Homo sapiens: one gene and its partners. The protein of the gene in region 3 interacts with the protein of the main gene of each other region in a biochemical or structural test. Each region holds a gene or a part of one and is shown on either strand. Other genes may lie near its edges.

What was found.
Region 1: the proteins of DNM2 (region 3) and SH3GL2 interact in a biophysical measurement, tested with the Homo sapiens proteins (2 studies listed by BioGRID and IntAct, with this or other methods).
Region 2: the proteins of DNM2 (region 3) and PSTPIP1 form a complex in vitro, tested with the Homo sapiens proteins (one study listed by BioGRID).
Region 4: the proteins of DNM2 (region 3) and TRIP10 form a complex in vitro, tested with the Homo sapiens proteins (one study listed by BioGRID).

What each region holds. Positions count from the first base shown.
Region 1 is NC_000009.12:17,574,430-17,582,082, forward strand, and holds the start of SH3GL2 (endophilin-A1), read left to right. Parts: upstream 1-4,636; 5' UTR 4,637-4,813; coding exon 4,814-4,858; intron 4,859-7,653. UniProt on the Homo sapiens protein: Implicated in synaptic vesicle endocytosis. May recruit other proteins to membranes with high curvature. Required for BDNF-dependent dendrite outgrowth.
Region 2 is NC_000015.10:77,033,112-77,037,987, forward strand, and holds the end of PSTPIP1 (proline-serine-threonine phosphatase-interacting protein 1), read left to right. Parts: intron 1-2,396; coding exon 2,397-2,452; intron 2,453-2,690; coding exon 2,691-2,824; intron 2,825-3,933; coding exon 3,934-4,065; 3' UTR 4,066-4,364; downstream 4,365-4,876. UniProt on the Homo sapiens protein: Involved in regulation of the actin cytoskeleton. May regulate WAS actin-bundling activity. Bridges the interaction between ABL1 and PTPN18 leading to ABL1 dephosphorylation.
Region 3 is NC_000019.10:10,714,226-10,721,095, forward strand, and holds the start of DNM2 (dynamin-2), read left to right. Parts: upstream 1-3,853; 5' UTR 3,854-4,017; coding exon 4,018-4,178; exon of another isoform or gene 4,179-4,278; intron 4,279-6,870. UniProt on the Homo sapiens protein: Catalyzes the hydrolysis of GTP and utilizes this energy to mediate vesicle scission at plasma membrane during endocytosis and filament remodeling at many actin structures during organization of the actin cytoskeleton.
Region 4 is NC_000019.10:6,734,959-6,742,683, forward strand, and holds the start of TRIP10 (cdc42-interacting protein 4), read left to right. Parts: upstream 1-4,721; 5' UTR 4,722-4,803; coding exon 4,804-4,827; intron 4,828-6,051; coding exon 6,052-6,167; intron 6,168-6,266; coding exon 6,267-6,323; intron 6,324-7,725. Other genes in the region: protein GPR108 isoform 3 precursor, read right to left, coding at 664-746, 950-1,000, 1,634-1,753, 2,499-2,618. UniProt on the Homo sapiens protein: Required for translocation of GLUT4 to the plasma membrane in response to insulin signaling. Required to coordinate membrane tubulation with reorganization of the actin cytoskeleton during endocytosis.

The DNA of each region.
Region 1 (7,653 bases), on a different chromosome or scaffold from region 3:
GGAAAGACTTCAAAGGAAAAACACTGCAAATGGGCACTGGAGGTGGCAGGATTTTGTGGGGAAGTCAGAACTATTTCAATCTGCAATGGAAATAGTGATGATGGTACAGATGAAGAGTCTAACATGAGTCACCCACTTGGTTAAGCACTTTCTTCTCCTCTGTGATTGGGTTAAAAGGGTTTATCTAAGTGAAAAGGAAGTTTTTGCAGGGAGAGGCCCCTGTACTTTGGGGGGAGGAGGGCTATATGGGAGAGAAGGAAAGGTGGGAAAGGTGGCCATCCCCGGCAGAAAGACCCACACATCCACTTCAAAAGAGGTTAAAAAAAAATGCTTCTCTCTGTGTATCTGTTGGAGAGTGGGTGGTAGGTGACAAAACTGGAAGCAAGGAAACAAAGATGGTCTTTCCCTTGATTTCTCATCTCTAGGAAAGGGCGTGTTAGCCCTGCCTGAGCTAGGTGGGTGTTCAATGCTACTGGGGCGCATCCAAAGGCACAAAATCTTATGTTAAGCGCCACTCACCCTGGAAAAACTGGGTCCTGCGCAATCGAGGTTTTAGTATCTGGTGAAGGCTTTTGAACATCAGATCCAATGTGGTCAGAAGAAAGCATCAGTGTCAATGATACATTGTTCATTCTTTTATTCATTCATTCATTCATTCAAACCTCTTCTATTTATTAACACTGACTAGAGGCTCTACCCTGAATTGAGGCTAAAGGCTGGAGTAGAAAAAGTAAGGATAAGTCACTTCCCTTCATTGCCTCTGTTTTCCTATCTCTAAAATAAGAAGTTGGAGTTTAATGCCTTTGCTTTGCAATGTTTCTTATGCTTAACGAGCTTACACATGAAGTCAGGAGTAGTTTGCCCCGGTATGAGCCAGAGGCACAGAGACAGGGGTTGAAGCTCAGAAAGATGAATGCTGCTGCTTTTCCTCTGCCTCCTTGAAGCTAGGGACCCTCTGAAAGGTGCCAGGGATGCAGCAGCTCTGTGCAAATGAGAGGTCTGGTATTTGCCAGAAGCTTTACCATAATGCAAGGAGAAATAGTGCATGAATGATGTGATGGGATTATTGCTGACCACGAATTTACTGCCCAATTAGTGAGGTGATATTTTGTGGGGGTTTCATTTAATTGGGACTTTCCTGAGCAGATCTAGGTTTATTTAACAGTTTACATTGATTTTTATCTCGGGAGACTAGGGCAGCATGCTGAATTACCACAACCTTTTACCAAACAAAGCTCTTCCTCGTTGACTTTTGATTCCCCTTTCCCTGCATTGTGCTTCTGCATTTCTCTCCAAAGCCTCTGTTGAAGATTCTTTGCAACCAAAGATGGCATCCATGCTTAGAATTGTTCAGTGTCTGGGGTATTTGTTCCTCTGTATTCAAGTAACAATAAATGTCCCTAGGAAGATTTTTTTTTCAAATTACTCGTCTGGAAACCCCTTGGGATTCAAGGTCCAGCCCATACATGCCTCGATACTTCCCCTTCTCAATCCCAGCATCTCCTACCATGATGCTTGCTAGTAGGAGGAGCTTAACAAATTTCTTCAAAGGTGACATCTCAAAGGTCTTTACAGGCATAAATTGTGGCTTCAATACAAATGCTGGGTTTAGATGATGTATCAGTCTGTTTTTACGCTGCTGATAAAGACATACCTGAGACTGGGCAATTTACAAAAGAAAGAAGTTTAATTGGATTCACAGTTCCACCTGGCTGGGGAGGCCTGACAATCATGGCAGAAGGTGAAAGGCACCTCTCACATGGCAGCAGACAAGAGAAGAGAGCTTGTGCAGGGAAACTCCTGTTTGTTTTTTTTTTCTTTTATTATTATATTTTAAGTTTTAGGGTACATGTGCACATTGTGCAGGTTAGTTACATATGTATACATGTGCCATGCTGGTGTGCTGCACCCATTAACTCGTCATCTAGCATTAGGTTTATCTCCCAGTGCTATCCCTCCCCCCTCCCCCCACCCCACAACAGTCCCCAGAGTGTGATGTTCCCCTTCCTGTGTCCATGTGATCTCATTGTTCAATTCCCACCTATGAGTGAGAATATGCGGTGTTTGGTTTTTTGTTCTTGCGATAGTTTACTGAGAATGATGATTTCCAATTTCATCCATGTCCCTACAAAGGACATGAACTCATCATTTTTTATGGCTGCATAGTATTCCATGGTGTATATGTGCCACATTTTCTTAATCCAGTCTATCATTGTTGGACATTTGGGTTGGTTCCAAGTCTTTGCTATTGTGAATAATGCCGCAATAAACATACGTGTGCATGTGTCTTTATAGCAGCATGATTTATAGTCCTTTGGGTATATACCCAGTAATGGGATGGCTGGGTCAAATGGTATTTCTAGTTCTAGATCCCTGAGGAATCGCCACACTGACTTCCACAATGGTTGAACTAGACACTCCTGTTTTTAAAACCATCAGATCTTGTAAGACTCATTCACTACCACGAGAACAGTGTAGGAAAGACCCACCCCCATAATTCAATCACTCCCACTGGGTTCCTCCCACGACACGTGGGAATTGTGAGAGTTACAATTCAAGATGAGATTTGGGTGGGGACACAGCCAAACCATATAAGATGAGGTGCAGAGGATGCCTGGGCGACTAAATCAATGGTTTCCAAAGGATTTAATGTAATGCCCTTAAGTAGTTTTTTTCTCCCAAGGTAGTTTCTTTGAAGTTAAGCAGCATGAGACTTCCAGGTTGGTGGATGAAGAACCAGGGAAAGATAGAAACTGCCTTTTTTATAATGTAGGGCTCAGTTAAGTATTCAAAGTTCCAAGGAGGCAATTCAGGCCCCCATTTCACACCTTTCACTGTTAGAGAGCAGAGCTCCTATCCATCCCAGGCCCTTCCACTTTGTAGATCAATTGCTCTATCTTTTGGCAGCTTCAACAAAGCCCTGTCTTATGAAAATGCTTTATTGTTCAGATCAGGGACCTGGTAGTAAAAATTAACTATAAAATACTTTTTTTTCTATTATGCAAGTAATGGGTAGCCTTTTTAAAAATTGGAAACATAGAGAAAAAAGTTTATTCCTAACAACCGGAGCCTCAGTGGATTAAAATTACTCAGGTTTCTCACTGATGCTACATGCCCATTGAACGTCAGGTGGGGACTCTGCACTGCTTTAGTCTCACTCTGGATACTGGCTGACAGACCACAGCTTTCTAGAATATTGCGGCCGAGGAAAAGAAAGCTTTGCGGCATCTCATACATCTCATATTGCTGCTGCAGAAGTGACAGTCACTTTTCCTCTTAAACCTCTAGTCAAAACTTGTAACCATGCCTCCACTTAACAAGAGGTTTGGAAAGTGCAATTCTGCCATGTAGGGAAAGGTATATGAACAGTGGTAAGGGCTACCACACTGGAGAATAGCTCCTTTCATCTGCCTCCCTTTGCAGCCTGCGTCCCTAGTCCATGCGCTCTACTGCTCCAGTGCCCACCACTGCTTGACTCTGCCTTTGTGTGTGTCAGTTCACATTATCAAGAAGGACCATGACTGGTAGCTCTACGGATGGAGGACCCTTTTGTAGCAGGTGTTCACCCTGTGCCCAAGCCGCAGTGCCTAGAAGAGTGGGGATGGGTCTGTGGCTCCTATCAGGCTGCAGGAGTTGCGGAGACAGAAAAAGTATTTCTAGGACTCCCATTTGGCCTTGCAGTCTCTACACATCCTTGGCAATTTCTCCCATCTTGGCTTCTCCTTCTTATCACTTTGGTCCACATACGGGGACAGCGTCTAAGTTCTTTCTGACCACCTCCTCAGTCCTAGAAAAACCAGACTTGGTTAAGTACCAGAGCACAGAAGGCATTTAGTGCTGCTCTGCTCCCAAGTCATCTATTAGTTTCACTTTAGCCAGCCATACCTCCTTGGTTACATATGAAGCATCTGTATATAACTTAGTATCATGCTTTTTCACATTATATTTTGATTTTTATCGGACCGGAAACCCTAAATCCACAAGCATAACAACAAGATCACATTTGGGCTTTTTCATTTCTGTAACCAGAGGATTGAACGCTAGTTTTGTAGTAAGACTTCAATTCTATTTATCCGTCCAGGCTTAAGGGTTCCTGTTCTTCTTTTTAAGTCATTAAATTGTATCAGACAAGGGGGAAAACGCGTGTGTGACTTTCCCTAAGGTAAGATGGGCTTAAGGGATATTGAAACCAGGGCAGAGAAATGTTTTCTGTGACCCACCAGTCAGGGCAAGGCATAGAAGGAGCAATGACTTATTCATTAGCCCAGATAGAAGGCCAGTCTTTTTCAGGCTGCGGCGCAGAGACGCCAGGCTCAAAGGGCAGGAGGGCCGTCTGCAGGCAGCGCCGCCGCGGCTACCTGGAAGCCCAGCAAGTCACCTGAGTCCTGCGGGTGCCTGGGCTGCCAATCTGCAGCGACCCGTCCGCAGCCCCCGGGGGCAGGAACACCAACCCCGGGACAGGAGGACGTCCTCGGCCCGCTGACTAGGGATCCGCCAGCGGGTGCCGCTGAGCCACATCCCCGCAGTTGGCGCCAGCATCCAGGTACCGCGCGCCACAGCACCTGCCTGGGCGTTCCCGCGCTTGGGGCGGGGCTTCCCGCGTCCCCTTTAAGAGGCCGCATCACCCGCCCTTGACGTCAGAGTGTTTCTCCGCAAGAGCCCGTGTCCCGCTAGGCTCCGCGCCCTCGCGCCCATAGCCCCGGCGGCGGCACGACCAGAGGCGGCCAGGGGAGCGCGCCGCCCCGCTCGGCCCTCCAGTCCCCCTCCGCCTCCTCCCTCCCGCACAGCAGCCGCCAGCGCGGCCTCCTGCACCATGTCGGTGGCCGGCCTCAAGAAGCAGTTCCATAAAGCCACTCAGGTAAGGCGCGCGGCAGGTGCGTCCCGGGGCAGTCCGGGGCGAAGCTGCGAGGGGCGCGCTCGGCGCTGGCCGTCCGGCGGCAGCTTGGGGAGTTCGGCACCGAGCCTCGCCCGCGCCGGCCGCGCCCCGCCTCGCAAGCCAAGGCGGCGGCTCGGGGCATCCCCGGTCTGGGCGTCCACCCTCGGTCCCCCGCCCCCGGCTTGGTGCGCGCTGCCTTCCCGCGGGTCCCCGGCGTCCTGCCTGGTAGCGCTGCTCGCCGCCCCCGCATCATCTCGCGCCCGTGCTGCAGGAAGGGGACCGCGGCTGCACTGCTGCCGCGGCGCGCAGGTGCCTTGGCGGCGCGGTGGGAGATTATGTAAAGTCGCCTCTTCACGGGTGACCTTGCGGAGTCGGTGCACCCGGCTTTCCCGGGATGTGTTGGCATGAGCGGTGGCCGCACTGGGGGTGGCGGGGCGGAGGCCGGCGGTTTGCGCTCCTCTCCCTTACCCTGTTGTCAGAACCCTCCTTCCCCGCCGCCCGCAGGCTCCAGGGGAATGGAAGGCTGGGGTCTTCCTTTAGGGACCCGCATACATTAACTTTTACCTGGAGAACTCGGTCGTGAAACTCCTTTGAGGCCAGGGCATGACAAACAGTCTGCGGGTCTTAAATATTTCCCTAAAACAACCAAATTGTTGAAGACTTAAAATCATCATGTATTTTAAATTGTTTTTAATAAATCTTTGGCATCTTGGATGTGCCCATTTTTCTTTATGGGGTTAATAAGCTGTGACTGTAATAAAACTGATTAATTTAGATTCTAATAATTAAAATCATTGGACTCAAAGAATTTTACATAGGGGCAAGTAAGCGAATACTTACGCTGTGACCTATTTCTTACATAATGTGTGTGATTACTACTTTTTTATCCTTCTGAAATAGGTTCAAATTTATGGGATCTTTAAGGATTTTGATGACTTACCGCGAAATGTTTTTCATGATTTGGTGTTAAATAGTTTTTCATAGGTTAGCCTTAATTAACGAGCTTTCTCATAATTTCTCGGAAGTAGTGAGGTTTTTCCTAGGCTACCACAGTGGCAGCCTTGTTATGAACCACATCCAGAAAAGGTGAGGGTTGTGTTTTACAGAACCTTGGTTAACTTAGGGTGACAGATGCAGCATGTAATTCCCGTCGTGTGTGTGTTTGCACGCATCTGCATCATCTTCATCACACATTCTTGCCTTTATAGAATCAATTATACCTGTCAACTTAGGAAATCAAGAAAAGTAAGACTATTTCTGTAAAAATGTTTCTTAATGTAATTATTTTTGCTTTTCTATTATAATTGGAGTTATCTGTGACCTCTCTGCCAGACATGTTTATGAAAGTAAGTGATTTGTTTGTTGATGTAGTTTGGAAGGCTTCTAATAACTTTATACTGCAAGTTCTTTCAGGTTTACAGAACCAAGCATATGTGCTGCCCAGGAATTCTGTGGCAGGACTTCTTCGATATTACTAACCTTTTTGATTGCTCTACTGGTCACTTCTCTATAGCATATCTCAGCACTGCGTTTACCAACACATCTTTTTTCCACTTGGATTCTAAAGATTTCTTTTGCAAAGCTTAGTGCCCTCAAAGGCAATTAAGAGTCTTGGCTTTGGAGTGGGAAAGGCTAAGGTTTGAATCCTGCCTCTGCTGCTTCTGACCTTGAGAGAGTATTTAACTTCTGAACCTGTCCATGCTGAAGTGATGATAATTTCCGTTGTCTCTTCAGGGTTGAGGTGAAGAGAAACGAGTGTGTAGAACACACGTATAAAGTGTTCAATAAATTATAGTTATTGACATAAAGGATATTTTTATTAGTATAAAATACTATCCCTTATGCTGTGAAGAAGTTACCCAAGCTAGACCTTTTAGTTTTTCCAACTTAAAAAATAGAGCGCTCCATTTCCGCTAAATCTTGAAGTTCTGTGTCGCCCTAAAGTGTAGAAAAAATAATTTAAACTGCGTTAGGAAAGAACTTAAAAGGTTGGAGAAGGTCGGCATGTGATGCGATACGGTTAATGTTTATCACACCGAATCCAAATGCAGAATCACTGCGTCATTGTCTTCCTTTTACTGAAAAGCCTTTTATTTGAAAGGTGAAGCAGCACGTAGTCTCTTATCCATAATTTAGTGTAGCACACTCTTAGAAAGTCTAAGGCACAGGTGACTGTTCTGTGCATATGTATATTTAGGAGAGTATGTAAAGCCCATGTTAATGTTTGCATGTGACAAAAAAATTAGAGAAATAGTCCTGTCCTACTTTTGTAGCCATTTTTTTCCATCAGGTCCGTGAACCTGATGTTATCTACAGAGAAGCTTTAGACCTAGAATTACTTCCTTTTGAGAACTGATGTGCTGGATAATATAGCCTGGGTTTGTTTGTTTGTTTATTTATTTATTCATTTGAGACAAAGTTTGACTCTTGTCGCCCAGGCAGGAGTGCAATGGCGTGATCTCAGCATACTGCAACCTCTGCCTCCTGTGTTCAGGCGATTCTCCTGCCTCAGCCTCCTGAGTAGCTGGGATTATAGGCATGCACTACCACGCTCAGCTAATTTTTGTATTTTTAGTAGAGACAGGGTTTAGCCATGTTAACCAGGCTGGTCTCGAACTCCTGACCTCAGGTGATCTGCCCGCCTCGATTACAGGCTGAGCCCCCGCACCTGGCCTATAGCCTGGGTTTATAAGTGGAAGGAGTCTGTTCACGCAAACGTTTCTTTCTATGGAATTGAGCTTTTTTGCTTGTGTTAGTAAGCGATGATAAATAAAACA
Region 2 (4,876 bases), on a different chromosome or scaffold from region 3:
CTCAGTTCAGCCTATGGAACCCTCAGCCCAAGGGACCCAGACACTAGAATAATCACACCCCAATTATTCACTAGGGGAGGTGCTCCGAGCTCTGGGGAGGCCCCTATGCTGGCTTCCTTGTCCCTGGGGCCTCATGTGAGCCTGGTGCCCTGTCAGGCTGCAGTGGCAACGCTGTCTGGCTGGAGCAGGACTGGGGCATCTGGAGAATTCTCCAGGCTTTTCCAGGGCTCCTTCCCCGGCCTGGCTGCAGTCAAGTGCCAAGGTCCTAGTGCTGGGCCTCAATGTGTGACCTGGGCAAGTCATTCACACTCTCTAAGGCCAGGGCCCTGAGTGTTGGGGTCAGATTCAGAATCTAAGGACTCTCCTGGTTCAGGCCTTGAGTGACGAAGGTGACAGCCCATTGGGAGCACTATAGCCAGCTTAGGGAGCCCTCGTAGCCAGGCCTTTGAGGGAGGCCATGTGCCCTGTGAGCATCCACAAGGGTCTGTGGGTTTCACATGGTGCCTGTGCCCCCACCGCCATGCCACCACTCTTCAGCCACCCTTCAACCAAGAAGGCCCTGCCTCTGGGAGGTAGTGGACTGTGGGGAGAGGCTGATGCAGTTCCCGGCCCTTCCCAAGGACCAGCTCATTCCAGGGCCTCAGGAGCCCCTGGAACTTCCTACTCCTGGGAGGCAGAGGCTCGTGGGAACCACCCGTGCTTAGAGAGGGCACACACACACCCTCTTTGAGAATCTTGTGCAAGCAGTGACCCCAGGAGGCAGCACACCCGCAGCCTCACATGCTACAAAAGCTTGTGAGACAGGCTTCCCTGTGCCTGGTGAGGACCTGGATCCCAGCAAAGGTGGTCATTTAAGCAACTGGACAAAAGAGCTCACCTGAAGCAGTATCAGGAAGGGGCAGAAAGGAGTGGCCCCAGAGAGGATTAGAGAGAGAGAGAGAGATGTCCTGCAGGGCCGAGGGAGGCCTGGCTGCTGGAGGGGGCTGGTCAGGCCTCTGGATGGGGCATCTAGAAGCCAGGCAGGACTGGGAAGAGGCGGGGGTCAGTGACTGGGAGTCAGAAGTGTAGACAGTCTGGGGAAAAGAGGTGTGGGGGCACGCAGCACAATGGCTCAGCAAGCCCTGCACCCCTTTCCCCCTGCCCTGGCCGCTTCCTCCACCTGTCCCCAGCCCCTGCTGGCTTGCACCCTGTCCTTTGCTGCCTGGGGAGCTGGCACGTGTGTCTGCCCGCCTGTGTTGGTGTCAGGCCCTCCCATGTGCTGGGTCCACGCATGTCCACCCTGCGCATGTGTGTGCACTCCTGGGGCCTTGGCCCTCGGCGCCTCATGTGGGAAAGGCCCCCCACATGCCACCTTGAATTGCAGGGCTGCCCCCCACAGGCCCCTGAGTCATGGCTCAGCCCCTCACCTGCATTCAAGATCCCTCAGGGTCTGGTCCAGTCTCTATTTCAGTCCTGTCCCCCACACACCCAAATTGGTCCACTCCACTCCACAAACCCCACCTGTGCCATGCCTCCTCCCCTGCACCTGAGCCCTCCCTCTCCTGGTCACCTGCAGTGCCTCGCTCCCCCTTCTCTCCTAGTAAAGCTTCACTCATCTTTGAAGACTCAGCCCCACCCCACTAAGAAGCCCTCTTGCCTTGGAGGCAGTGTCAGCCTCTACTTGTTGAGCCCTCACTACTGCCCACTTCAGGGGGTGCCCCCAGCATCTGCCGCATCTGCCTCTTCTGTTTTATTTTCCTTTATTCAGTAAACCTTCATGACCCCAGCTCAGTCCAGGCCTAAGCCTGGTGCAGGGGCAGGGGTAAAGTAGCCCAGCGCTGTCCCGGAACTCCTGTGAACAGGGTGGCTGAGCTGGCCTGATCACCGTGGGCCCACAGGGAGGAGGGCTGGCTCGGCCCAGGCAGTGGAGGCCTCAGCAGGGCACGTGAGCCAGGCTTTGTGTGGCAGTGCACCCCCCACCCCTACCCATGGGGGAAGCTGCTAGGGCAAGCTAGAGCAGGGGCCTGGAGGGTGAGGACTGGGCATCTTCCCACGAGGCCTCAGTGCGGAGGTCCTAGAACCCCCAAAGGGCCATGGGAGTCTTCCAATGAAGCTACAGCTTCGGGGGTTCTAGGATCCTCCCAAGGGCCCTGCAGGGAGCAGGTGCTGAGATGGCCTGCAGAGGGCGCCAGTGGAGGGCGTAGCTGGGGAAGGAGGAGCCACCAGGACTACTTTCTGGGGAGCCCTCCTGCCTGAGGGGCACCTCATAAATGACATCCATGCCTGGAGGCTAGGGGCAGTCCCAGCCCTGGCAGAGCGCGTGCAGCTCTGAGACCTCTCCCTGTCTAAACCCTCCCTCCTGGTGGGTCCCTGAGTGTGGGGCGGGGACACTCACCCTCTTTCCTCCCTGTTCCCAGGTTCTCTGGACTGCTGCACGGAAGTCCCAAGACCACTTCGTTGGCAGCTTCTGCTGGTAAAGGGGGTCAGGAGGGGACCCCCAAACACACTGATCCTGGGGGGGAGGAGAGGTCTCCCACATGGCACAGATGGGGCCACTGAGGCCCTCAAGAGGAAGTGTGTGTCCCCCAACAGCAAGTGTGGACAGCAGAAGGAAGAGGCAGGGCCCAGCATGGAGAAACCCCATTCTAGTAGGACTTCCAGGGGCCAGTGTCCCCAGAAGGGGAGGGGTCTATGTCTCACCCTGCTCTTAGCGTCCACAGAGACCCTGACCCCCACCCCCGAGCGGAATGAGGGTGTCTACACAGCCATCGCAGTGCAGGAGATACAGGGAAACCCGGCCTCACCAGCCCAGGAGTACCGGGCGCTCTACGATTATACAGCGCAGGTGAGGCCTCTATACCCCAAACCCACCTGTGCCACCTCCCCTGCACCTGAGAGCTCCCTCTCCCATCCAGTGCCTTGCGTCCTCATCTCTCCTCATGGTTTCACTCATCTTCGAGCATCCTCTCCTCCTCAGGAGGGCACGTGTGCCCGAGTGTGTCCACACTAGCAAGGGTACCTGGGAGTGTGCTTGGATGTGAGCTCTGAGAACAGCACCCAGGGCTTGCGGGGCCTCAGTGTGCATGTACTGACTGGAAGCTGGTGTGCAGCAGGCCTGTGTCTGCCCGGGCCTGTACACAGCACACACGTGGAGCACATGTACCTATGCCGTCCACACAGGCTGGGCGCTGAGTGGTGCACACGTGCGGGGAGCTGGCAGAGCCTGGAGCTGCCTGCAGGTCATAGCTTGAGGGCCAGGCTCTGTGCCTTTGGGTCAGGGCCCTGTCCTTCGTGGCCATGGGTGTGGAAAACTGTGGCCAGAATGAGTCTTGCTATCGTGCCAGGATTGATTTTCTGATGTCCATAGGGTGAGGATGAACCAAGGCAGCCACAGGGCAGCTATGAGAGTCCTTTCTGCTCCCTGCTTGAGGGGAAGAATGCATAGCCAGACCTCACATCCACCTGGACTGAGGCCAAGCACCCCCACATAGCCAGGCAGGCTGGGTGTGGACTCCACTGATGAGGCCAGGGCTCGGGGAGGCAGGGAAGCCAGGCCAGGAGAGTGATGGGGTACTTGGATGGCAGTGGCTAGCTGGGGCTGGGGACCGCAAAGGGGAGGCTTGTGGTAAGCTTAGGCATGAGTGTGCCCTGGGCTTGGGGTATGATGAGCACCCGTGACCCCTGACATGCTCCAGTCACTGCGTCTCCAGAATGGGAGAGGGGAGGTGAGGCTGGGAAGAAACCCAGGTTGGGGGAGAACTATGATGACAAACTGAGGGGGATGGGAGGCCCGGTCCGTTGGGTTACCCCCATCCTGTGTCCCCAAGGGGCTGCCCCTGCCCACCCTGGGAGACATGCCGCATTTACTGCTGGGTGGGGGAACGCCAGGCCCCTCCCTGCAGGCCCTTCCCTGCAGGCCCTTCCAACGTCATGCGCTTTCAATCTCTTGGCCAGAACCCAGATGAGCTGGACCTGTCCGCGGGAGACATCCTGGAGGTGATCCTGGAAGGGGAGGATGGCTGGTGGACTGTGGAGAGGAACGGGCAGCGTGGCTTCGTCCCTGGTTCCTACCTGGAGAAGCTTTGAGGAAGGGCCAGGAGCCCCTTCGGACCTGCCCTGCCAGTGGAGCCAGCAGTGCCCCCAGCACTGTCCCCACCTTGCTAGGGCCCAGAACCAAGCGTCCCCCAGCCCCGAGAGGGAGCCTGTCGTCTCCCAGGGAATAAAGGAGTGCGTTCTGTTCTCCTTGGTGTGCTGGGGTCCCGTTCTCTTTTTCTCCTGCTCCAGTGTCCGAGTGCTCAGTTCAGAGGAGGCAAAGGAACAAGGGAAGGAGCCTGGATGTGGAGCTCCCCAACTCAGCCGAGGCTTCAGCTATAGTTGGAGAAGAGGCCTGGCCCCAGTTGCTAGGAGCTCCCAGACTGCCAAGGAGACACATTCACACCTGGACAGAGGACACAGGGGTGCAGGAGGATGTGGCAGGGGCAAGAAGGGGCTCAGCAGGGCTGCAATGGGGAGAGCAGGCTTCTTGGGGGCGGAGGGTTGAGCAGGTCCATGGCTGGGCAGCAGTGGCCAGGCCAGGGCAAGTGCGTGGGCAAAGGTGAGGTTGGGGGTACACCCAGGAATATTCGGAGGACTCAGTTTGGAAACAGGAAGCTGGTGATGGATCTGTTGGAGAGGCCATGGTGGGAGCCCAGGAAGACAGGCTTGTGGCTTGTGGGTGCAAGTGGGGCCTGGGGAAGCCACTGCTGCCCATGACACTCCCCTCAACATGGCAACCCCGGCCGAGCAGGGGTCCACAGCCCAGGCACGTTGGCCCCGGGCACAGAGGGAGCTGTTCTTGAAGGCCTTCAGCCCCTTCTCTTTTTAGTCCCAGGAACATAACTTTCACTGCTGGCCAAGC
Region 3 (6,870 bases):
AGGACACTGAGGCACAGAGGAATGAAGTTTACATGGTCACTGTCACTTTCTTAGTCCGTTCTGGCTGCCATATATAACAAAATACCATCAACTGGGTGGCTTATAAACAGCAGAAATTTATTTATCACAGTTCTAGAAGCTGGGAAATTCAAGATCAAGGTACCAGCAGATTCAGTGTCTGTTGAGGGCAAACTTCCTAGATGGCGATCTTTTCTCTAATCTCACATGGCGGGAGGGGCAAGGCAGCTCTCTGGGGTCTCTTTTATGAAGGCGCAGTGAGAAGCTCAGCAGGTTTGTGAAAAGAAAAAAAAATACATAAGGGCACAAATCCCATTCACCTAATCACCTAATCGCCTTCCAAAGGCTCCACCTCCAATTACCATCATGTTGGGGATTAGGTTTCATCATGTCAATCTTGGTGTGGTGGGTGATGGGGTAGAGGGCTGGTCTATAAACATTCAGACCATAATAATCAGTAAATAAACAGGCCCAGGATCTAACCCAGATATGATCAGTTACAGAGCTAGTGATCTTCACCAGCCTGGGCAACACGGTGAAACTCCTTCTTTACAAAAAATACAGGTGGTGTGCATCTGTGCTCCCAGCTACTGAGGAAGCTGAGGTGGGAGGATTGCTTGAGCCCAGGAGGTTGAGGCTGCAATTGCACCACTGCACTCCAGCCTGGGCAGCGGAGTGAGACTCTGTCTCAAAAACAAAAACCAGTGCTCTTCAAAAATGAAGTTTTTGAAATGGAAAAAGTAGGCCAGGTGCAGTGGCTCACACCTGTAATCCCAGCTACTCTGGAGGCTGAGGCAGGAGAATCACTTGAACCCAGGACGTGGAGGTGGCAGTGAGCCGAGATCGCACCACTGCACGCCACCCTGAGAGACAGCGAGATTTCGTCTAAAAAAAAAAAAAAAAAGGTTGGACGTGGTGGTGGCTCACACCTGTAATCCTAGCACTTTGGGAGGCCAAGGAGGGCAGATCATGAGGTCAGGAGTTCAAGACCAGCCTGGCCAACATGGTGAAACCCCATCTCTACTAAATATACAAAAATTAGCTGGGTGTGGTGGCACGTGCCTGTAATCCCAGCTACTCTGGAGGCTGAGGCAGGAATATCGCTTGAAGCCAGGACTTGGAGGTTGCAGTGAGCCAAGATCGCACTACTGTACTCCAGCCTGGGAGACAGAGCAAGCCTCCATCTCAAAAAAAGAAAAGAAAAGAAAAAAAAAGTCCAAGCGCGGTGGCTCACACCTGCAATCCCAGCACTTTGGGAGGCCAAGGAGGGAGGGTCATCTGGGTCAGGAGTTCGAGACCAGCCTGGCCAACATGGTGAAACCCCATCTCTACTAAAAATACAAAAATTAGCCAGGTATGGTGGCAGGCGCCTGTAGTCCCAGCTACTTGAAAGGCTGAGGCAGGAGAATCATTTGAACCCGGGAGGCGGAGGTTGCAGTGAGCTGAGATTGCATCACTGCACTCCAGCCTGGGCTACAGAGCAAGACTCTGTTTCAAAAAAAAAAAAAAGTGAAAAAGTAATACATGTATGTAATCCACAATTCAAATCACATCAAAAGTGCAACTACTTTTATCAATTTATGTATTTTTCCAGCAATTTTCCGTGTGTACATATGGTTTTCATGCATGTCAGCATCCTTCACACACAGTTCTGTACCTTGCTTGTTTTTTCCTCTTAGTATATCTCAAATTATTTATACTTCAGTACATGAAGAGTTTCCTCAACGTTTTTGTTTGTTTGTTTATTTGTTTTTGAGACGGGGTTTTGCTCTTGTTGCCCAGGCTGGAGTGCAGCGGTGCGATCTCAGCTCACCGCAACTTCTGCGTCCCGTGTTCAAGCGATTCTCCTGCCTCAGCCTCTCGAGTAGCTGGGATTACAGGCACGCACCACCACGCCTGGCTAATTTTTTGTATTTTTAGTAGAAACGTGGTTTCACTATGTTAGCCAAGCTGGTTTCGAACCTCTAACCTCAGGTGATCTGCCCTCCTTGGCCTCCCAAAGTGCTGGGATTACAGGCATGAGCCACCGCACCTGGCGCTTTTTGCCTATTTCTTTGAGACCTGGGGTTTTGGGTCACAAAACAGGCAAATGCCATGAGCCACCCTCCTCCTCTTTCTCCATCTTCTTGTGCTGCCTCAGGTCAGAGCACTTACCTGCTCCTGCCTTCTCACTGGGTTTCCTTGTCTCTGGCCTATTTGTCTCCAGAGGGGTCAAAACACTTCAAATCCTCCTATTTGTCTCTGTCCACTGTCAGGAGTTCCAGTTCCCAGAACCCCAATTTTGCCTACAAAATAGCGTGTCTTTTCACGGGGAGAGGATTTGTTGAGTTTTAGTGGGTACTCAAAAAGATCTAAAGCCAGTTGGGGGGGTTCACACATGTAATCCCAGCACTTTTGGGAGGCCGGCCTGTGAGGGTCGTTTGGGCGCAGGAGTTTGAGACCAGCCTGGACAACACAGCAAGACCCTGTCTCTATAAAAAATAAAATAAAAATAATTAGCTGGGCATAGTTGCGCACGTCTGTGGTTCCAGCTACTCGGGACGCTGAGGCGGGAGGATCGTTTGAGCCCAGGTGCTTGTTGAATTGAGCTATGAGTGCACTACTGCACCCCAGCCTGGGCAACAGAGTAAGGACCCAGTTTCTAAGAAAAGAAGATTCATTAGCTAGACGCGGTGGCTCACACCTGTAATTCCAACACTTTGGGAGGCCAAGACGGGCGGATCACTTGAGGCCAGGCGTTCGAGACCAGCCTGGCCAATATGGTGAAACCCCGTCTACTAAAAATACAAAATTAGCTGGGCGTGGTGGCTCACACTTGTAATCCCAGCTATTCGGGAGGCTGAGGCAGGAGAATTGGTTGAACCGGGGAGGCGGAGGTTGCAGTGAGCCAAGATCGCGCTACTGCACTCCAGCCTGGGTGACAGAGTGAGTACCCCGCCTCAAAAAAAAGAAAAGAAAAAAGATTCATGATCTGCTAAAGTTGAAGAAGTGGGGGAAAACATTGGAGTGTTAGCGGCGTCAAGATCGGGCGTGAGCAGAAAGGGCACAGCATTTGCAAAGGCGTGGAGGAGTGATTTTATTGCGTTCTATCCCTAGGAAGCAATGACTTGGCCTCTACCATTTGCAGAGCGCATTGGGACCCTGCTCCCAGAGCTGGTTTGCAGTCTGGGAACTGAGATGCGCTCTGGGACTTGTAGTTTTCCCCAGTGCCAGGAAACTCAAAAATCGAGACATCGGATCCCACCACGAGGTGTCGCCCTTGAGCGAGTACGGTGGGATCTATCCTATACTTCAGAAGGCTGTTGCAGACATCCAACAATCACAAGGAAGAACGGGAGTTTTTCTGATTGACAGATATGGTTCTCAATGATAGTCAAGATTCGGATGTTAAAGCCCGCCCTCTTTTGCCTGGTTGGCTGGAGCAACGAAGTGATATTTATATGAACCAATGGGAAATTCTTAGGGAACGAGGTAGTAGCTCAATCCCCAACACCATTGGTCCACATTGTCTACTGGCACGTCTGCCTGCCAATAAGATGGTGGAACTTCGCCAATGGGCAGAGCCAACGTGCCTTTTTCGGAAACACCCCCTTCCTCTCTTGACAACTTGCTTTCTGCCGCTATTGGCTGTTGCACAACAGTGACGGTTCTTTTGTCCAATAAGTCAGCAAGACGGTCCCCAGGGGGAAGGTTTACTCAACCATAGGCCCGTGCCTAGTTTTTATTGGCTAGTGTATCCGAGTGGCGGTGCAGCAGGCCAGTCGCGTGCGGCGCGAGTGCTTTGGGCGCAGCCCCCGGGGCCGGGGCGGGAGGTCGCTCGGGTCGGGTGTCGCCTGAGAACCGGATGAGGCGGCGACCGTGAGGCCGAGCCGGGAGCGGGCGTCTTGCCGAGGCCCGGGCGGGCGGGGAGCAACGGCTACAGACGCCGCGGGGCCAGGTCGTTGAGGGTCGGCGGCGGGCGAGGAGCGCAGGGCGCTCGGGCCGGGGGCCGCCGGCGCCATGGGCAACCGCGGGATGGAAGAGCTGATCCCGCTGGTCAACAAACTGCAGGACGCCTTCAGCTCCATCGGCCAGAGCTGCCACCTGGACCTGCCGCAGATCGCTGTAGTGGGCGGCCAGAGCGCCGGCAAGAGCTCGGTGCTGGAGAACTTCGTGGGCCGGTGAGCGGGCGCGGCAGGGATCGCGGGCGGGTGGCGGCCTAGGGCGCGGAGGGCGGACCGGGAATGGCGCGCCGTGCGCCGCCGGCGTAACTGCGGCGCTTGCGTGCCCGCGGCGGGGAACCGGACGGGGTCGGGGAGGCGGGCCCTGTGGGACGCCCTGGGCAGAGGACTCCCTGCAGGGGCTCCGGAGCAGGCCCGGGCCCCAGGGGCGGTGTCACGGGCCAGGGCGCCGTAGGACAGGAGGTGCGCTGGAACCCTGCGGTCCATCTGGTCCCAGCTTTCGTGGGTGAAGTCTGCCATCTGGTTGGCCGTGGGTCTGGGGTAGATCCCTCTTCTGCTCTTTCGGGCTGTCCATCAGAGGTGAAACCGGCCATCTAGATATCTATTGGGGCGACCGCTGCGGTCTGGCTGGCTTGTTCTTGTATCTGGAGCTGCCCCCGCCGTCTGGTTGGCTGTCTCTCTGTCCTGGGCAAGCCTCCCTGCCACCACCATTTGGTTGTCCATCTGTCCAGTCCCACCTGGCAGCCCCCTGCTGTCTGGCTAGCTGTCCAGGGTGACCTCTGCTGTCTGGCCGCCCATCCGTGCCCCTCACAGACTTTAACACTGAGCAGTCCCTCTGTTGGGTGACACCAGCTGGCCTCTACTGTCTGACTGGCTAGCTGACTCCTAGGGGACCCTGTTTGATTCTCTCTGGCTGACTCTTACAGCTTGATTCCTGGCTAGCGCTGGCTCCTCTCTTCCGTGTGAATTCTTCTGTCTGTCTGGCCATCTCCTAGTCTGCCCATGACTACCCCTGAGTGTCTGGCACAACGGCTCTGGAAAGGGGTGGTAGGAGGGTAGAGGGGAGAACAGAGCTGAAGGAGGAGGTTTGGACCCTACTTCCCCTCTCAGCTGGAAGGAGGACTCTGGGGGTACCTTACTTCAGGATTCCTTTCCGAGTGCTAGAACACAGGGGCCCGCCTCCCAGCTACAGCCTACAAATTGGGGGCCCTCCTTTGGAGCCTGGGAAGGGGCTTCTTGCGTGATCAGGCCTCAGTGGCTAGCGCTGGGATGTAGCCTTCTCTGGACAGCCTTGAGAAGCCGCGGTGTGCCCATCTGTCCAGTGGGCAAACTCCACTCTCTGGGGCTGTTTCCAGGATTCAGGAAGCAAATGAATGAGAACAGCCCGTGCAGCCACCTCTCCCTCCCACCAACCCCTCTTGCCTTTCTTGTCTCCCAGATGGGCGGCCACTTCTCCATTCCAGGAACTACTCATTTGTGGTGGTGTGGCTGCCAAATGATAACATCCTCCTCCTGTCATTATTGTCATTGTTATTGTTGTTATCATTGTCAAGGGATAATGTCCCTTCTTGATTCAACATCTTGAATCCCAAGTAAGGAGTGGGGTGGAGGCTGTGTTATCATCCCCACCTTAGCTGAGCTGGGAGGCTCAGAAGGGACTGTGATCACCCAAGGCCACTAGGCTGGCGTAAGGCCTTGTGTCTGCCATCCCAGAGCCTTGGGGCTTTGCTCCAAGCAGCACAAATCTCCTCTTTTGCTACCTTGTCTCTAGCTCATTGCCTTCTGTCTACCGTGGTGGAAAGGTGTGGACTTGCAGCCAGCTGGGCCTGGCCTGATCTCAGGCTGGACTGTGGTGTGGGCCCCTTTGAGTGACCATCTTCCTGCCTGCCCAGGCTTCTGGGACGGGGGTGGGGGGTGTTTGCAAAGCTCTGTCTCTTTCACTTGCCTTGTGACCTTGCACAGGTTGTCTTGGCCTCTCTAAGTCTTGGTTGACTCTCCTAAACAAGTTTATTTTATTTTATTTATTTATTTATTTTTTTTTTTTTTGAGACAGAGTCTCCCTCTGTCATCCAGTCTGGAGTGCAGTGGAGCAATCTTGGCTCACTGCAACCTCTGCCTCCCAGGTTCAGGCCATTCTTCTGCCTCAGCCTCCCGAGTAGCTGGGATTACAGGCGTCTACCACCAAGCCCAACTAATTTTTGTATTTTTAGTAGAGACGGGGTTTCACCATGTTGGCCAGGCTGGTCTCAAACTACTTACCTCAAGTGATCCTCATGCCTTGGCCTCCCAGAGTGCTGGGATTACAGGTGTGAGCCACCAAGCCTCGCCCCAGGAGTTCCAAGACCAGCCTGGGTAACATGACAAGATGCCATTCTACAAAAAATAAAAAAATTAGCCAGGTAGGGTGGTAGTCCCACACCTGTAGTCCCAGCAACTCAGGAGGCTGGCCCTGGGAGGACTGCTTGAGCCCAGGATGTCCAGACTGCAGTGAGCCGTGATTGCACCATTACCCTCCAGCCTGGGTGACAGAACCAGATCCGGTTTCAAAAAAAGAAAAGAAAAAGTGCTTACTTACCTAACGCACTGCCTGGCACATAGTAGGTCTACATGGATGGGGCTATTGTTGTTTATCTGGCTGGTTCCTTTGCTATCAGGGACAAAAGCTAACCAGAATGAAAGTGCTTTCACGTTACACACTTAAGCCTTATGAGGGAGGCATTGCTATAATCCCCATTTTACAGAGCAGGAAACTGAGGCTCAGATAGCTGAGCAGAACACTCTCACTGGAGGCTGTAAAGTGAGGAGTTAGGTGTTCTGGGTTGGGAACCTGGGTCTCTCTCCCATCCTTACCTCTCCTCAGTCCCTCTACCCCTTGCCTTTCTCTCCTGTCTACCATGGTGTCTGGCAGCTG
Region 4 (7,725 bases), 4.0 Mb from region 3:
CAACCTCCACCTCCCCAGCTCAGGAGATCCTCTCACCTCAGCTTCCAGAGTAGCTGGGACTACAGGCGTGCACCACCATGCCTGGCTAATTCCTGTACATTTTTTGGTTTTTTAGTAAAGACAAGGTTTTGCCATGTTGCCCAGGCTGGTCTACAATTCCTGGGCCCAAGCAATCCTTTTGCCTCGGCCTCCCAAATACTGGGATTACAGGCGTAAGCCACTGCCTGGCCCTAAGTATATTATTTAAAAAGAAAACATTTTATCTACAGAAAAGCAACATGGTTTTGTCAGACCCTGGCCCCAGAATCCCAGTTCCTGGGACTCAGTTTTCTTGTCTGAAGAGCGGAGATGATCACAGGATAAGGAATGGGTGAGTTAGTGTATTAAAGCTCCGGGACACCGGAAGCACTCAACATGTGCGAACAATTGTTATTCATTCTCACAACAACCCTCTGTATCCGGGTCTTCTGCCCTGAGACACCAACACCCGCGGAGTCCCTCTCTCCTTCCTTCCAACAATCAGAAGACTTGAAGGCAAAACTAAAAAGTAAGTGGCTTTCTCTCTCTGCTTCTCATCCCACCTGATCAGCCCAGGTGCGTGTGGGCATCACACCAGGGAAACGCAGACGAAGGATCTGAGCGAGCCCCCGGTCCCCAACTCACTGCAGATCCTTGGTGTTGATGAGGAACAGGACCAGGAAACTGCTACTGTTTTTCTGGAGAGGGCAGTCCTGGAAATCCCGGGTCTGGGGGGTGGGCAGGAGGGAGTGAGTCTTGGTTACTCCTCTCCTGGTCCAGCTCCACCCTGTCTCCCTCCCTGTCCACCCACGGGATCTTCCTGCTCCTGCCTCTGACAAAGAACAGGGGCCCTTGGGTTACAGATGCAGAGGACAGACCCTACCCCCTCCCTCCAGCCCCTTCTCCCGTCTTCCCCATGCCCTCCACTCACTGAATAGGAGCGAACTCTGCCAGACCGAACCCGGCTGAGACTGAACCCCACCTGGTGGGTGGAAAAAAAAAGGGGAGGGTGTGAGGGACAGTAGAGACCTCCCAGCTATCCCTTTCAGTAGCAATAGAAACCTAACCTCACATTTACTGAACACCTAACATGTGCTAGATCCCACACGCTCTTTTTCTTTTTTAGAGTTGGGGTGGTGGGTGGACCTCATTCTGTTTCTCAAGCTGGAATACAGTGGCAGGATCATAGCTCACTACAGCCTCGAACTCCCAGGTTCAAACGATCCTCTCACCTCGGCCTCCCGACTGGCTGGGACTACAGGCACACCTCACCACGCCCGGCTAATTTTAAAAACTTTTTGTAGAGACGGGGTTCTCACTATGTTGCCCAGGCTGGTCTTGAACTCCTGGCCTCAGGCAATCCTCCCACCTTGGCCTCCCAAAGTGCTAGGACTACAAAGCCTGAGCCACCGCGCCCCGCCTGTCCCCCAAGTCTTAAGAAAAGTGCCTAGCACATCCTGTGTAAGACATCATTACTCCCAGGTACAGATGACGAAACAGGCTCAGAGAGATGACGGGACTTGTACAAGATCACATGGGTAGCGGCAGAGCTGGGAACCCAGAACCGGGGGATTGCACCGTGCTCTCCTCCAGCAAACTCCTCAAGGTCCCTCACCAGCAGGGACTTCTCTTCTGCCTCCCGGAGGCCCAGCCGCAGGACGCTCAACTCCACCTCCAGAGAGCCATTGGTGTAGAAACCGAAGCTGTTCAGCTGGATGTCCGCTCGCTTCTCCCCCTGCCGGAGACCAAGGAGGCAGAGGCAGTTCAGACCTCTTTCCGCCTGCCCAGCCCCAGGGGTCTGGCACGAGGACCTCCAGAAGGGCCTCCTGGTACCCCTCTATTTAGGACAGGCCCAGAGGATGACAAGAGAAAGTTGAGAGGGACTTCCTCCCTGCAGGGGAAGGGTGGTCCTGCATTCTCCGACCTCTGTTCTGAGAACCCAGGAACAGAGATCCTGCGGCACCTGGAAGTCTCCCCACTGGGGTGAGCACCGCCCGGAGAACAGTTATTCACCTCGGCGTGCCTGACCTTCACCTTCCCGAAGAACTTTTACATTCCAGTTGAGCTCCCAGCAATATTTCAACAGAACCCCCCAAATCCCATTAAGTGCCCAGAGGACCCCACTCTATAGCCCCCCAGGACCCCGCTGTGCGGCTCCAGGGTCTCTAGCGCCCCAAAAGTGATTCCAAGAATTTAAAGGACTAAGACCCAGTTGGGGGGAAGGGGGGTGTAGTCCCCAAGAGATGGAGCCTCGCCCCCGAAGGGAGGGGGCCGACCCCAGCGAGGCGGACCCGGCAACTCCATCCGGAGGACCGAAGGGGATCCCGGGACGAGACCACTCCGGGCCCGGAAACGGGGGGCGCCGGACCACTCCACCGCCTCGGGGACGGGGGAGGGCGGACGAGACCACTCCAAGCCAGGGGGCTTCTCCGAGACAAAGTTGCGCCACCGACCCCAGACCCTCGCGCGGCGGGCCTCACCGTCAGCGCCAGCTGGTGGATGCGCCCGGAGCAGCCACCCAGCAGCAGCACCAGAAGTAGCCGCTGCCCCCACTCCGCGGGGCTCCCGCGGCCGAGCCCCCTCCTCTCGCTCACTGCCATCTCTGGAGCCACCTCCTCCCCGACTCCGCCTCTGGCGCCCAAGCCCGCCCACCGATGAGCCAATCGCCGCACGGCGGGGCCCGGCCTTTCGGAGTTTCCAGTCCGCCAACCAATCAGCAATTGCCTCTCCGCAAGCCCGCCTGCTTGCGTCACCGACGGACAGCACCGGTTCCGAATGGGAGAGCCGATAACGCTTAACCCCCAGCTCACTCTCACCAATCGCTATAAAGATTGTCCGGATGTGATTTAATGAGCAGTTTATCTAACCAATTGTCATGGATCTGATATCCGGCCCTTAAAGCGGAATTTCTCCACCCACTCTTAACTGTCCGGGACTACATTACCCAGAATGCAGCGGGAGCAGACAAGGGCCACAAAGCATTAAATAAACTACCTTTCCCAGTATCCCCAAGGACGGACTTCCTCTTCTTGAGCCAGGGATGTGGCTCCCAGCCAGAGCTGAGGCTTTTGGTAAACACACGCATCTGTTCAGGCCTGACCTGTTTTCCTAATCTTCCTGGTCCACAGAGAGGCCTAAAGCTGGCCTCAGGTTAAAGTTTGACCCTAGGATGACCTATGACCCCAGGCTGAGACCCCAGCCTTAGGCTAAGCCTTTTATTCCAGAGTGAGGCAATTGGAGCCCCACCCCCAGATTCCAGGCTAGACCGGACTCCGGGCTGAACTCTGACCCCAGGTGAACTCCCTCTCTGCAAGTTGAGTCCTAACTTCAGCCTGAAACTCTGACACCCCCTCGTCCCCCACACCACACACTGAGGCTTAATCTCTGGTTTAGGCCACCGATCTGGACTAGCCCTGACTCCAGATTGGACCTGACCCCTTACCGGGTTGCTAATCCTTCTGGTTAAGCCTCTGGCCTCTATCCCCTATCCCCACGGTGGTGCTGACCTGGACTGAACCCCAATTCCAGTTTGAGTCTCTGAGCAGAGGTGAACTCAGAACTTTGCTAGGCTGAGCCCCCATTTGAGACTAGCCACAGAACTCACTGGGTTCAATTGCCCAACTGCAATCAGACATTTTCTAGCTCAGAAGCCACCAGCAGGTGGGGCCAGGTCTCAGCAGAGACATCAGTCCCAGTGTGGGCTCCCAAGGCTCTCCTCCTGGGCTCAGCTGTATCTCTCTGTTCTGGGAGCCTGGGTGCTCTGTGTAAGGGGAACGTATACCCAAGGGCCCCCCTGCAAGACGCCCAGCCTTGTCTGAGGCTGCAGAGAAAGCGCCAAAGCCCGGAGAGAATGGGAGTGGGAATCCCCAGTGCCTCCTCTCCTCTTTCATTCCAGCACCTCAAAGGGATTTACAAGGTGTGAACAGACTTTTATGGGAGAGGTGACAGACTTCCCTTCTCCAGGGCCCAGATGGCCCAGATGTCTGGGGGAGGGGCGGAGTCGGAATCTCAGGGGCAGTACTGAGAATGAAACCAGGTTAAACTGGAAAATGGGCAGATGCAGGCGCGAACTGGAAGGCAGCTGGGGAAAGGCCTGGGCCTGGCGCCCCAAGGACGGCCTGTCTTCAGTTTCCCAGCGGAGACTCTGGGGGAGGGAAGGCAGGATGCGGTGCGGGAGTTAATGGACCTGGCCTTGGCGAAGGCGCGTCCTGGGTTGGATCGAAACCCTCTCATCCGCCCTGTGGCCGGAGGGACCAGACCATTAGTGGGACGAACCTAGACGCCTGGAGCCGGGCCGGCTCGCAAGAACGGGGTGACCTCAGGTTGCCCCTGCAATGGGGTTGAGGAAGGACTTCTTGAGTTTGGGGTTTTAGTGTCTTGGCCCTTTAAGGAATAATTGCGGGGAAAGGGGAAAAGGAGATGGGAAGAACCGTTTGGAGCGGGGAAGGAAGATGAGAGGACGAGAGGGACCCCGGGGATTTGGAAAAAATGGGTGGGGGTTCTTTAAGGGGTCGGTCCAGCGGCGTCGAGTGGCAACGTTGCTTTAAAAGGGGGCGGAGCGTCCGTTGGGCCCCGCCCCCGAATCGCAGTGCTTGGGCTCCGCGCGGGTGGGGGCGTGGCAGAGCGTGCAGGGGGGCGGGGAAGAGTCTGGGGTGGGCGGGGCCGGGCGGGGCGGGGCGGGGCCAGGCGCACCGCCCTCGGCTGAGTCTCCCCGGGGAGGGCGGCGGGCGGCGGGCGGCGGGGACCGGGTGCGGTGGTGGCTGCGGCGGCGGCGGCGGGAGCAGCATGGATTGGGGCACTGAGCTGTGGGTAAGTCCAATCGGCCCGCCTCTAAGTTCCCCTTTGCTGGGGTCCAGGCACCCCCCTTTTGTCCCCAATGTATCTTAGAGGGGGCTCCGCGCCTTTCCCTTCCACCGACCCCTGGGTCCCCGCCCTCCACCCTCCGCTCTCTCTCGAAGTTTATCTGGGAGTCTCAGCACGCTCAGGGGCGAAGGGCGACTTTGCCGGACCGGAGTGGGGAAACTGAGGCACAGGGTTGCGAATGAGGCGGGCAGAAGGAATCCTGGGGCCAGGCCGGGGCGGCTGAGAGAGGTCACCTATTTTGGGCGCCCTGGCCGGGCAGGCGGCTTATCTTACGGCCCCTGGGTCCCTGCCCGTCGTCCGCCTGTCCGGCTAGGAGGGGGGAGGGGACCCTCTGGTCACCCTCATCCCCACCCACGTGGGACCTAGAAGTCCTGACCGCCCTTTCCCTCGCCTTTAATCAACACCTAGGGGCTGGGGACGCTCATGGAGGGGAAGGGGGATGCTAAGCTCGGCCTGATCCCCCTCCCTGGCTTCCCCCTGCTCACCCCAGGCCCAGGGCGGGACCGCCCCCTGGTCGCCTATAACCTCAGCCCTGGAAGCCCCAGAAATTTCCCCCTATCCTAGCCGGACCTCTGACCCCTCCCCTTGCTGGGGGCGGTGGAATCCCTGAGTTCTTAGTGCAGCGGGGGTAACCAGACTGCCACCCCCTCCTCCAATTCTGCGATTTCTTTTGGATGTGTAGTGGGGTCAGTGGGGTAAATTGAGTCACCCATCGGGGGATCCCTGGAAGCAGGGAGATTCAGGGAACCTGGTGCCTGCCCCCTGGCCACTCAGGGGCCCCCAGTCTGCCAGGAACCCTGCCCCTCTGGCCTTGACTCACGCCGGGCCGGCCGGATTTTCCGGAATCCGGGGGGATTAGGGGAGCCCGAGCTGGGGGAGTGGCCCTGTCCCCTTCCACGCCCCTCTTGGCGGTCCTATGTCGGAGACCTCCATCTCCCGGCCGGGGTGGCTGGGGCCTGGGCGCTGTTCTCCGGCCCTTCCCGGGAAGGGGAGGGGGTTCCCGCCAGTTTCCTGCCTCCCCCCGCGCCACGCCGGGGCGGCGCCGGGAAGCCACTCCTTCTAGGAGCGCAGAGCCTTGGCCCTCCCTGGGAGTCTGGTCGGCGGGCTGTGGGGTCCCAAAATCGTGACCCCGGCCCCTCTCCCCTCCTCCCCCACCATGTCCCATGTCAGGATCAGTTCGAGGTGCTCGAGCGCCACACGCAGTGGGGGCTGGACCTGTTGGACAGATATGTAAAGTTCGTGAAAGAACGCACCGAAGTGGAACAGGCTTACGCCAAACAACTGCGGTGAGACCCTGGGGTGGACGCTACGGAGGACGCGCCTGGGGCGACGGGGAGCGGTGGGAGGGCTGCGGGCTCAGCCCTCCTACCTCTGTCTCCCCTTAGGAGCCTGGTGAAAAAATATCTGCCCAAGAGACCTGCCAAGGATGATCCTGAGTCCAAGTAAGGTTGGAGAGGGGCTGCAGGGCTAGATTTGTGGGGAAAGGCGGTGCTTGGGTCTCACTTCCCCTCCCTCAGCTGGGACACCCCACCGCTCCTCTCACTTCCCCTTCTAGAGGTGAGAGCATGGATGCAAGATGCGGGATTATCTGGCTTGGAATCCTGAGTCCACTACTATGTAGAGAAATTGACTTGGGCTTGTGACTCAGGTTTTCTGCCACTATTTTCCTTAACTGTTAAATACAGAGGCCCCAGCAGTTACAAAACCAGTAACTTTGGGCAGATGACTTAAAGTTTTGCGCCTCTGTTTTCCTCATCTGTGAAATGGAATGATGACGATTCCTCCAGCTTTGTAGGGCTTTCATGAACACGAGCTGAGTGAATGTGTTTAAACAGTGTGCAGTCCATATCAAACGCCGTAAGGAGCATTTGACTTGGAATTGAGTCCCCAATTCCAAAATCCAAAAAAGCCCTGGAAATCAAGTTGTTTTGGTCACTTGTTTGGCAGCAATCTCTGACCTGAACTTTTTGTTAATTGTAGTTGTTTTGTTTTGTTTTTGACAGAGTTTCACTCTGTCCCCCAGGCTGGAGTGCAGTGGCGCCATCTCAGCTCACTGCAACTTCCGCCTCCCAGGTTCAAGCGATTCTCCTGCCTCAGCCTCCCTAGTAGCTGGGATTACAGTCACCTGCCACCATGCCCAGCTAATTTTTATATTTTTAGTAGAGACAGGGTTTCACCATGTTAGCCAGGCTGGTAATTGTAGTTTTGACTTTTATCCCACTTAGTGTGAATGTTAACACCTCTCATTGTAAAATTAAAAAAAAAAATAGGGTTGGGCACAGTGGCTCACACCTGTAATCCCACACATTGGGAGGGTGCGCAGGTGGATCACTTGAGGTCAGGAGTTCGAGAGCAGCCTGGTCAACATGGTGAAACCTTGTCTCTTCTAAAAATACAAAAATTAGCCAGGCGTTGTGGTGCGCGCCTGTAATCCCAGCTACTCAGGAGGCTGAGGCATGAGAATCGCTTGAACCCGGGAGGCGGAGGTTGCAGTGAGCCAAGATCGCACCACTGCACTCCAGCCTGGGCGACAGAGTGAGACTCTGTCTCCAAAACAAATAGATACGGTGTTTGATTACAAAATGATGTCCCCAACCCCACTAAGATGATGCAGAAAAGATGGTATAAGCTTTGTACACCATCTTTAAAAACTGGAAAATTCTGTGTTCCAATATACATTCGAGGTCCAGTGCGGTGGCTCACACCTGTACTCCCAGCACTTTGGGAGGGTGAGGCGGGAAGATGCGGAGTTCGGGGGGATTGGAGTTTGAGACCTCATCTGGAAAAAAAAAATTAGCCAGGTGTGGTGGCGTGTGCCTGTGGTCCCAGCTATTTGGGAGCCTG